Regions from separate parts of the Homo sapiens genome. Here region 1 is linked to region 2. The links come from fine-mapping of genetic effects on gene expression. A gene starts in region 2. The other region holds a variant in brackets. All regions are shown on one strand. Distances are from middle to middle. Region 1 overlaps COX15 (cytochrome c oxidase assembly factor COX15). Region 2 holds the start of ERLIN1 (ER lipid raft associated 1).

Evidence for each region. PIP is the estimated chance that this variant, and not a neighbour inherited with it, causes the effect. A credible set is the group of variants that fine-mapping cannot tell apart.
Region 1: its variant is the best candidate, but not a certain one, in a credible set for the expression of ERLIN1 in whole blood (TOPMed, PIP 0.50).

What each region holds. Positions count from the first base shown.
Region 1 is chr10:99,713,642-99,719,023 of GRCh38, reverse strand. COX15 (cytochrome c oxidase assembly factor COX15) reads left to right here. Exons shown (of 9, transcript NM_078470.6): 7 at 524-678; 8 at 2,563-2,676; 9 at 4,306-5,382. The coding sequence ends at 4,437. Among named protein-coding and RNA genes, the nearest start is that of COX15, 16 kb to the left of the region's middle. The variant AAAAG/G (reference allele first, on the strand shown) is at 3,260.
Region 2 is chr10:100,183,816-100,189,197 of GRCh38, reverse strand. ERLIN1 (ER lipid raft associated 1) reads left to right here and starts at 3,169. Exons shown (of 11, transcript NM_006459.4): 1 at 3,169-3,684; 2 at 5,361-5,382. The coding sequence starts at 3,572. It overlaps CHUK (component of inhibitor of nuclear factor kappa B kinase complex), which reads left to right. Exons shown (of 21, transcript NM_001278.5): 21 at 1-898. RefSeq lists an enhancer at 2,802-2,951 and a silencer at 3,122-3,271.

The DNA.
Region 1 (5,382 bases), 470 kb after region 2:
AACATAATGTGCTAGATGATATTTAGTGCCATGAAGAAAAATAAATTAGGGTCAGGAGACAGAAAGTGGGCTAGGATCATCAAGCGAAATCTCTTTGGTAAGGTGACATCTGAGTGGAAGCTGAGGAAATAAGGGAGTCAGTCATGCAGACATCTGTGGGAGAGCATTTCTAAAATAAATCAGTAGCACTCAGTGGCGGGGTGAGGAGGGCATCAAAATCACTAAGGGAATTTTTCTAAGCTAATAAGCCTCTCCCCCTCCCCCCACACCACAGCCTCTACTCCACTTCTCTAGAGGAAGCAGAATCTTGGGGTGGGAGCAGGTAAGGATGCAGAGATTTGAAGTTTCCTTGGTGATTGTGATGTATCTTCTCTGTTGGAGAACTCCTGTTGCAGATATGTCTATTATTCTCTGACTGTTCCCTTAGTTTAACTCTGGGATAACAGACTTTTTCTATATCAGAACTAGTATTTGGTCTCTTCTTCCTCTCATTTTAATAAATACCATTTACCTTGGAATACAGGGGCTTTTGTGGCAGGGCTAGATGCTGGGCTTGTTTATAACTCCTTTCCCAAAATGGGAGAATCCTGGATCCCGGAGGACCTCTTTACCTTCTCCCCCATCCTGAGGAATGTTTTTGAGAATCCCACCATGGTGCAGTTTGATCACCGGATTCTGGTAAGTGTAGTTGGTGGTTACCTGCCAGAGAGCACAGGAGCCTATCATAGGCTTTGGGGTGTCAGTGAAGCACTGATGGCAACACTGAGAGGGTAGAGCAGGAACTATATTTCCTGCTCTCTTTGGAAGAAATTTTAGGACCATTTCTCTAATCTAATGTCTTTGTCCTCATTATTCACCCCTGTCCCCCTACCCCAACCCCAGCCAAATTCTAGCTTTCAGGACGTTGCCAGCTTCTTAAAAGTTCAAATGTGCCTTTTACCACTTGGCAAGTGATAACCTCCCTCAATTCTGCACGTACCTAGAAAGTCATTTCAGCAGAAATGTGGTTGAGTAGAGAAGCGAATGCGGAGACCATAGCTGCTAAGCACGTAGCTCTCGGAGCTAAACCAGAAGCTCAAGGAGCCAGGAGCTTCACCAGTACTTTTCATTCTATTTAAGCGAATATGTTTTGAGGGTCTGCTATGGGCCATTCAAAGATTGGCTTGGAGGCCTGTGTGTGATGAATTGGAGCGGGGAAAGATGAGCAGTAAGGAGACTGTGAGAAGCATAGTGCTGCTGCGTAATGCCAGGGAGAGTGATGGAGATGGGGCCTACATGGTGGGAGTGGGACTTGAGAAGAATGATGCATTTGAGAGAGAATTTAAAGGAATAGAGAGGCTGGGCATGGTGGCTCACACCTATAATCCTAGCACTTTGGGAGGCTGAGGCGAGAGGATTGTTTGAGCAGGAGTTTGAGGCTGCAGTAAGCTGTGATCACGTTACTGCATTCTAGCCTGGGAGACAGAGTGAGAGCCTGTCTCTTAAAAAATTAAATTTAATTTAAAAATAAGAGCACTGGGCGCAATGGCTCATGCCTGTAATCCCAGCACTTTGGGAGGCTAAGGCAAGAGGATCGCTTGAGCCCAAGAGTTCAAGACCAGCCTGGGCAACACAGGGAGACCTCATCTCTACGATAAATAAATAAATAAAGGAAAAGAGTTAATAAGATTGGCTGTCAGGAATAAAGGTGAAGAAAGATCAAGTGAAATCCCAAAGTTTCTTCTACAGCATGCTTGAAACATGACCTACAGGGATGGGACCCTCAGAATGAGTGTGGAGCTAGAGGTGGGAGGATGTCATCAGATGGAGGTATGTTGAGTGTGAGATGAGAGCAGCACGTCCAGAGAGAGGGGGCCAGAGGGCTCAGCTGTCCAACGGGGGCTGGGCTGAGGCATGTTACCTGGTGTGGGCTGAGTCCCCACCTGCGCACAGTATTTTAGCATAAGTAAAGCCTGGTTGAAATTGTCATTGTGGACAGCACTGAAAAGGAAATGAAGTGAAATAAATGTAGAAATATGATAGAAAACATTCTCCCTGATACCGTGGAAGAGGAAGGAGACCATTATTGCCAGTCCTGGACCCTTGTTCTGAAGAGATAGGAATGAAAATGAGACTTTAGGTCTTTTTTAGCACCAGCTGGCAGCACCAGCACTTTCTCCACTCACAGCCCAGGAAAATAATAACCCTCATGTGCTGGGGTCAGCCCTGCTTTAAGAATATAGGATTAGAGATATGGTTAGGGATAAGGATGCAAAGAATTAAAAATGAGGGGGACACCCACATTGGAAGGTGGATGAGATCACTGGGAGTGAGGGTGTATAAAGTACATACAGAATCTTAGGTGGAGCCTGGGTGATACCGACGTTTAAGTGGCAAGCAGAAGAGGATGGTGGAAGAGACAGCCTGTGGAGGAGTGATCAGGCTGGGACTGCAGGGAGGTTCTCTGTGACTGGTACAGGAAAGTACTTCATGGTTGCTGAGTGGTTCTAGAGGAGATACATGTAAGGTGAGTTAGAAACCTGGCACTTCTATCTAATGTGATAGACTCTTTCTTCCCTGCAGGGAATCACTTCAGTCACTGCCATTACAGTGCTCTACTTCCTCTCTCGGAGAATTCCCCTTCCTAGAAGGACCAAGATGGCAGCAGTGACTCTGCTGGCTTTGGCGTATACACAGGTATAAACCACTTCTTTTTGTTCTGACAGTATCCCCAATACAAAGTTAAAAAAGGGGCCGGGCACAGTGGCTCATGGCTGTAATCCCAGCACTTTGGGAGGCCTAGGTGGGCAGATCACTTGAGCCAGGAATTCAAGACTAGCCTGGGCAACATGGCAAAACCCCATCTCTACAAAAAAAATACAAAAATTAGATGGGCATGTTGGTGTGTGCCTGTAGTCCAAACTACTTGGGAGGCTGAGATGGGAGGATCACCTGAGCCAGGGAGGTTGAGGCTGCAGTGAGTCAAGATCGCACCGCTGCACCCCAGCCTAGACAACAGAGTGAGACCCTGTCTGTTTAAAAAAAAAAAAAAAAAAAAGGAAAGGTGACAGACTAGGAGAAAATATTTTCCATATTTATAATAAATTAAAAGATTAATAACCGGAAAATAAGTAAAGGACATCAATACACAATTACCACAAAAACAATGATTAATGGCCAGTAAACATGAAAAGCTGTTCAGCTTCACTTATAATCAGAGAGGAGCAAATTTAAAAAATAAGTACCATTTTGTGCCTATCAAATTGGAAAAAAGTGAAAA[AAAAG/G]ATAATCAGGTATTGCCATGGGCATAGGAAAATGGATACTTTCAAATATTCCTGGTGAGAGCATGAGTCAGTACAGTTTTTTCCAGAAGGCAATTTGGCAATATCTTTTTTTTTTTTTTTTAGAGATGGAGTCTCACTCTGTCACCCAGGCTGGCAATATCTTTTAAAAGTTAAATGGGTAATTCTTTGGCCCAGCAAATGAACTTATTAGTGTCAGTCCTAGAAACAGTCCAATGCAACAAAGACCTTTTGTATGAGAAAATTCATCATAGAATTGTGATAGTGAAAAATTGGAAACAACCTAAATAGTTAAAAAACTATGGGCCGGGCACAGTGGCTCACGCCTGTAATCCCAGCACTTTGGGAGGCCGAGGTGGGCGGATTACCTGAGGTCAGGAGTTCAAGACCAGCCTGGCCAACATGATGAAACTCTGTCTCTACTAAAAAATACAAAAATTAGCCAGGCGGGGTGGCACACGCCTGTAATCCCAGCTACTTGGGAGGCTGAGGCAGGAGAATTGCTTGAGCCCTGGAAGTGGAGGTTGCAGTGAGCCAAGATCATGCCATTGCACTCCAGCCTGGCAGACAGAGTGAAACTCTGTCTCAAAACAAAACAAAACAAAAAAAACTATGGTATATCCATACTGTGCGATACTGCACAGCAGTTTAATAAGATCTCAATACATAGTGTATATTGCTAAGTGAAAAAAAGCAAGTGACAGAACAATATGTTTTTTAAAAGCACAAAACTATATATTTATTTCTCTATAAACATACTAAAGTACAAGTATGCAGAAACTGGTAACAGTGACTACTCTGGGGAACTGGGATGGATTGAAGAATAAGGGGAATTTTAGGTTTATCAATTTTGTTCGAATTTCTTTCATTGTAAGCATATTTGCTTGTGAAATTAAAAATGTGTGTATTTTAAGTGCTCTGATAGGAGGATGTGGAGGTTTGTGTGTGGTTATCCACGCCTGGCCATTTTCAATGTGAACTTTGGGTTACTGCCTTTCCTATTGCCTTCTTTCCTTTGTGACAGGTGGGCTTGGGCATCAGCACGCTGCTGATGTATGTCCCAACTCCTCTGGCCGCCACTCACCAGTCAGGCTCCTTGGCTTTGCTCACTGGTGCTCTTTGGCTGATGAATGAACTCCGAAGAGTCCCAAAATGATTCTTAGAGGACCAGCCTCCTGGGACTGTGACTGCTTTTGAGAGCTCTTCAGAGATCATAAGAACTTGGGCTTTTCTACGAGATGACCTTGACATACCAAGTGGTTTCCAAATGGTCAACTTACTTAAAAATCTTTTCCTGTTTTGAGATAGTCACTGGATCAAGAATGCATTAAGTGTGGTTACCCTAAATGTTCCCTTTTAAATCTGCTTTTCATGTTGAAAATCAGTTTTAATGTAGAGAAAGAAATGTCTGCCATTTGCTGCTTAACAGGCTTTGTGTCAGGTTTTTCAGTGTTGGCAAGCTCTTGGTTCTACGTGGATGATTTCTACGTGGATGTTCTCCTGAGTCCTTAATTCTGCCTAAATAGAATTTCTTTATGATCTTAACTTCACTTCCATTAGGTGAAGATTGAAAGGATAGGATTGACATACCCAAAGTAGCCAGCTGGTCTTCAGCAAAAAAAAAAAAGCTAATGTCTTCTAATATCCTGATTTTCAGAAATGGGGAAATTGCAGATTTTGACAAGCTTAATGTGTATATGTAGCAAAATGGTTTTTAAGTACTTGGAAAAGGAGGTAATCGCCAAATAGTTCCATTTTTTTTTTTTTTTTTGAGACAGAGTTTCACTCTTGTTGCCCAGGCTGGAGTACAATGGCGTGATCTCAGCTCACTCTGCAACCTCCACTTCCCAGGTTCAAGCGATTCTCATGCCTCAGCCTCCCGAGTAGCTGGGACTACAGGCACAAGTCACCATGCCTGGCTAATTTTGTATTTTTAGTAGAGAAGGGGTTTCACCACATTGGCCGGGCTGGTCTTGAACTCCTGACCTCAGGTAATCCGCCCATCTCGGCTTCCCAAAGTGCTGAGATTACAGGCATGGGCCACCACGCCCAGCTAGTTCCTCTTTTGATAAGGCTGTTAACATTACAAGGTCAGAGAGAG
Region 2 (5,382 bases):
GAAAACCTCAAGTAATAGGCATTTTAAGTAAAAGTCTACCTGTGTTTTTTTCTAAAAAGGCTGCTCACAAGTTCTATTTCTTGAAGAATAAATTCTACCTCCTTGTGTTGCACTGAACAGGTTCTCTTCCTGGCATCATAAGGAGTTGGTGTAATCATTTTAAATTCCACTGAAAATTTAACAGTATCCCCTTCTCATCGAAGGGATTGTGTATCTGTGCTTCTAATATTAGTTGGCTTTCATAAATCATGTTGTTGTGTGTATATGTATTTAAGATGTACATTTAATAATATCAAAGAGAAGATGCCTGTTAATTTATAATGTATTTGAAAATTACATGTTTTTTCATTTGTAAAAATGAGTCATTTGTTTAAACAATCTTTCATGTCTTGTCATACAAATTTATAAAGGTCTGCACTCCTTTATCTGTAATTGTAATTCCAAAATCCAAAAAGCTCTGAAAACAAGGTTTCCATAAGCTTGGTGACAAAATTCATTTGCTTGCAATCTAATCTGAACTGACCTTGAATCTTTTTATCCCATTTAGTGTGAATATTCCTTTATTTTGCTGCTTGATGATGAGAGGGAGGGCTGCTGCCACAGACTGTGGTGAGGGCTGGTTAATGTAGTATGGTATATGCACAAAACTACTTTTCTAAAATCTAAAATTTCATAATTCTGAAACAACTTGCCCCAAGGGTTTCAGAGAAAGGACTGTGGACCTCTATCATCTGCTAAGTAATTTAGAAGATATTATTTGTCTTAAAAAATGTGAAATGCTTTTATATTCTAATAGTTTTTCACTTTGTGTATTAAATGGTTTTTAAATTACTTTCTTGATCTCTATTCATTATAAAAATCAGATTATAATAAAACAGTTGAATATGGCTTAGGAAAATATGAAGGTTCCATGAAGTGGAATTAAGAGCATAGAATAACTGTACTTTCCTTAGGAATAATAGGACTTATGGTAAAGGTAGTATTGGGCAACTTCTTTAAGAGTGTTTTCCTCTGAGATGTCCTATCACCACTATCTACATCTAAAAAACATGCTCGATTCTTGCCCTATAAACTGATGTCACAGCCCCACCATCCCCATTTTTGCTAGTGGTATCATTTTCCTAGTCAACCAAATTTTTTAGTCATCACATATCACTGTTCGTCATCTATTATAATAGGCAGTCTCTCTCTTGTTTCCCTGGTTTTAGAAGATTTTAGTAATAAACATTTATTGGGTACCTGTTACTTGGAGGGTATTAAGCTAGATGGCAAGATCTGAAACAACATAGGCAGTATAGTAAAAGTGCTTATCTGGGAGTCTGAACATTACAAGCCATCCAAGCATTGCAATTATTGTTAAGGATTATTTTCAATGGTCATGCATTTTCTAATATTTTAATAATTGGTTAAAGATTTGTTATAGCGTGGGGGCCGCTGCTGGTGTGTGGCTGGGGTTATGTCAGGGCAGCCTGATCTATATAATTTGGGCAGATGGTGTGAGTCAGAACAGACTATTATAGTGGGATCCCCAAACTTGCTTTTGATGCATGAGTTGGACCACTATTTTTTGGTGGGTAACAACTTTTCAGAGGGGAATGGCAGTTGTGAATTGTATACATTTCATTCTTTAAGCAATATTATGAAAAACTTCAGAGAATGTCTACAGAAAACAGGGTATGGAGCAAGTTATTTTCCATTCTTTTTGCTTTTTGGAAGTTAAAATAGCTAAGCTCTGCAAATATCATTTATTTGGAACAGATAAGGTCCCAGACATTCCTAGATAATAAAAATCAAATGAATGATACAGGTAAGTGTATTTATTGAAGGGTGTGGGTAGAGTGGTCTGGGAAGTCTTGCTTTAATGAAGACGGATTGATTCTATTTACCTCTTCTTACTTCCACTACTAAGTAACCCTGGGCCTGCAGTTTCCTAACCACTTGACTTCCTTGCCAACAGTCTGTCTCCACTTTCAGCCGTTTTATAGATTCATTGGCCCTAAAGCACTGCTTTCCCATACTTCCCTACCCAAGAGGGCAGGGGTCCCCAAGCCCTGGGCCGCGGACCGGAACCAGACAGTGGCCTGTTAGGAACCAAGCCGGATAGCAGGAGGTGAGCGGCGGGCGAGTGAGCATTATCGCCTTGAGCTCTGCCTGCTGTCAGATTAGCGAGTGGCATCAGATTCTCATAGGCACGCGAACCCTATTGTGAACTGCACATGTGAGGTTTGCCGGCTCCCTGTGAGAATCTAATGCCTGATGATCTGAAGTGGAACAGTTTCATCCCCAACCCACACACACCCCCACCCCGTCCGCTGGGTTAGAGGACTTTACAACCCTAGTCCACCTTGTCCAGTTATAGTTCCACCTCTAGCCTTTCAAGGCTTAAACCATTAATGTCCTTAATTTCTCTTGTATTCATCTATCTCCCAACTATACCTTTTTCCTTCCCTTTTTTATTTTTGGCAATATGTGCCCATGGTTTTTTAATTTAAAACGAACAGAATATGTAGTGACGCCTACCATAGCACTCCTTCCCATCACACAAGCCTTCAAGGAAACTGAAGTACTTACTTTGGTCTCCCTGGAGGATTCCCTCCGCCTCCCGCCCCATGTGCTTAGCAATTCTGTTCCTGTAGTCTGGATGGCCTTCATAAAGCCCTCACTGGACCAGCATTCTGGCACATAATAGGAACACTTAAAAAACGAGAGAATGATGCCGTTATATCTAATATCTTCCTCTTCTGAACTTTCACAGCACTTTATTTGCAACAAGTTTAGTTGCTCCTGAAGGGCAGGATCTCTGCCGGAAGCAAGTGCGTGCCACACAGTGGGGCTCCGCATACACTGCAAAAGGACAAATAAACCGAACAGCTACCGTTTGAGAGTGAGCGAGTGGGTTCTCTGCACAAGAACAAACCAACCAGTCCCTTGTCCGAAAGGGCGTCTCCTTTTCTCTGCTTCGCTGCTCACTCCAGACTGCGGGCTGTCCTCTTCCGAAGCAGTTAACCAGCAGTGTACAGAAAGCGACTTGCCTCCAAAGGAGCCTGCGCGGCCCGCGGCTAGGAGAATTTTGTCCCATGCGCTCCCCGTCTCACTAGCCGCGGGCCGGGGCTACGCCGTGTGCGTCCCCGCGCAGCCGCAGTGCTGGGCGAGTGGGCGGGGCCGGCTGTTGGCGGCGGTTGGCTCGGCGCGGGAGTCGGCTGCACGTGCGGGCGGGGGCGATGCGTCACTGATCGGTGAGGCGCGGCCGAGGGGTCGGCTTTCCTCGCGAGCCTGCGGCTGGGCTTCTTCTCAGTTAGTGCCTTCCACCCGGGAGCGACCCTTGGGAGAGGGAGTTTCAGGAAGCTCACCGAGCAGGGGCGGCCCACTGGCCTCCGGGGGCGGAGGAGTTGGCAAGGGGTCAGCGGGCTCAGCCAGAAGGGAAGAATGAGGGGACAGGGGTACTGGACTCCCCGGCTCAGCCTGCGAGAGAGCGCCAAGTTTCCGGAGGGAGAGGGTAGAAACTGGAGGGGGTGGACCTGTCACTCACGGGACTGAGGGTCCTTTTCTCCCGCTCCCAGGAGGAACGAGAATGAATATGACTCAAGCCCGGGTTCTGGTGGCTGCAGTGGTGGGGTTGGTGGCTGTCCTGCTCTACGCCTCCATCCACAAGATTGAGGAGGGCCATCTGGCTGTGTACTACAGGTGAGCGGCATGTGCAGTCAGTTAGGGCTCTAGAGCAGATTAAAAGGGTACTCCAGAGTGGAGTCTGGGAAGTTGTTCCCTCTGCAACGTTCGGGGGCGCATGTCCCATCTCTAGGGAGAGCACGGGGGTCGAAGCGGGCTTTTGCGGAGCACCCTCCAGATGTTGGACAGTTTTAGTGCTATGTTCGTTTTGTTGCAGAGATTAAGTCTCCCTACGGTTATTCCTATACACAGCAAACTCAATTATTTGTAGAAAAATGAAGAAGGAAGAAAGGAAGTAGTCACTCTACCTCTAACTGAAGAGATGGATAAATTATAGTTCGTTCAACTGTACAGGCTTTAGTTTGCCGCTGTAGATGCTGTATGTTTATGGTTGTTTCTTAGACTTTTTCATTTAAAAGCTTCCAGTGTCTGGTTACGTCTTGTAACACCATGATGACTGTGATGGTGCTTATGTCCCTGGACCTCCAGGGACATAAGCACAACACTGATGGGCCATGCTCCTCCCTCCTTACTGTTGCTGTTCAAGTTGGGGACAGGAGTGGTGTGGGAGCTGTTGCTCTCTTGTTGAGCTCGCTTAGCTTTTCCTTCAGCCTAATTACCACAAGTTCCTTTTGATACAGACTAGTAAGAGAGGCCAGTTTGTGGAGAAATTGGGATAATGGTGTATTCAAAAAGAGCGTCAACTTTTTGCTTGTTTCCACTATCCCTCAAAACTGATATTTCTACTTTCAAATCCATCCTGAATCCTAGAAAAAGAGCAATTTTAATGGTATATCTTAGCAGATGGAGCTCTACATAAGAAATTACAGATTAGTCCAGATTTCCTTCCAGTTTAAAAGCATTGTCTTTCTGACAGTAAAACCAGAGAAAGGACATTTCAAGGAATGACTCAAAGAATTAGTAATGAACCTCAAACAGTTCATCTTTCCTTGTTATTATGACCTTGCAAATGTGTTTATATTTTCAAGACCGGTAGCTAAGTTCTATGAATTTACAAGGTGCAAAATAGGACTTTGTTTTCTTTGCTCCCCAAATGCCTCCTTTTTATAATTTCCAGGGCTTGCTTTCATAGTTTTCACATTCCAGGATTTGGTTAACAAGCCCTTATGCTATTTATTTGTATAGTCTTGTCACCCTTCATCTTTTCATGCTAATTTTTTGTTTTTATATAGAAATTTTATGTTCCCAGTATTTTAATTACCTTGTAGATAGATCGAAAGAATTATAAGCCTCAGAAATTTTCTCTTTACTTCAAAGTTTGCATTGTCTTTTTTTCAACCTGGTGATTAAATGTATTATATATTTTGATTTGGCTCTTGTTATGTACTATTAATGTACCTCTACTGAAAGCCATTAGAATTTTTTAAACAAATATTTCTCAGAAGGTTAAAGACCGAGGAGAATCCTTTGAACCTTAGAGCAGTGCTGGAGACCCAGAGGTACGGTTGGTTGAGCTTATGAAACAAGGTGTAACATTGGCAGTTTAATTTGATCTTTTTCCCTTTTTAGGTGTGGAGGTATTTTAAGCAGTTGTTCATTATGAGCAATTCATATTAGTGAGGCTTTAGTAGGTCAGCAGCATGAGCAAGAGTGAGTATTTATTATAGCATTTTAGATTTGGAAAGATAATTTTTCTTTTTATAATTTTGTCAAATTGAAACATCTTTTTGCAGGGGAGGAGCTTTACTAACTAGC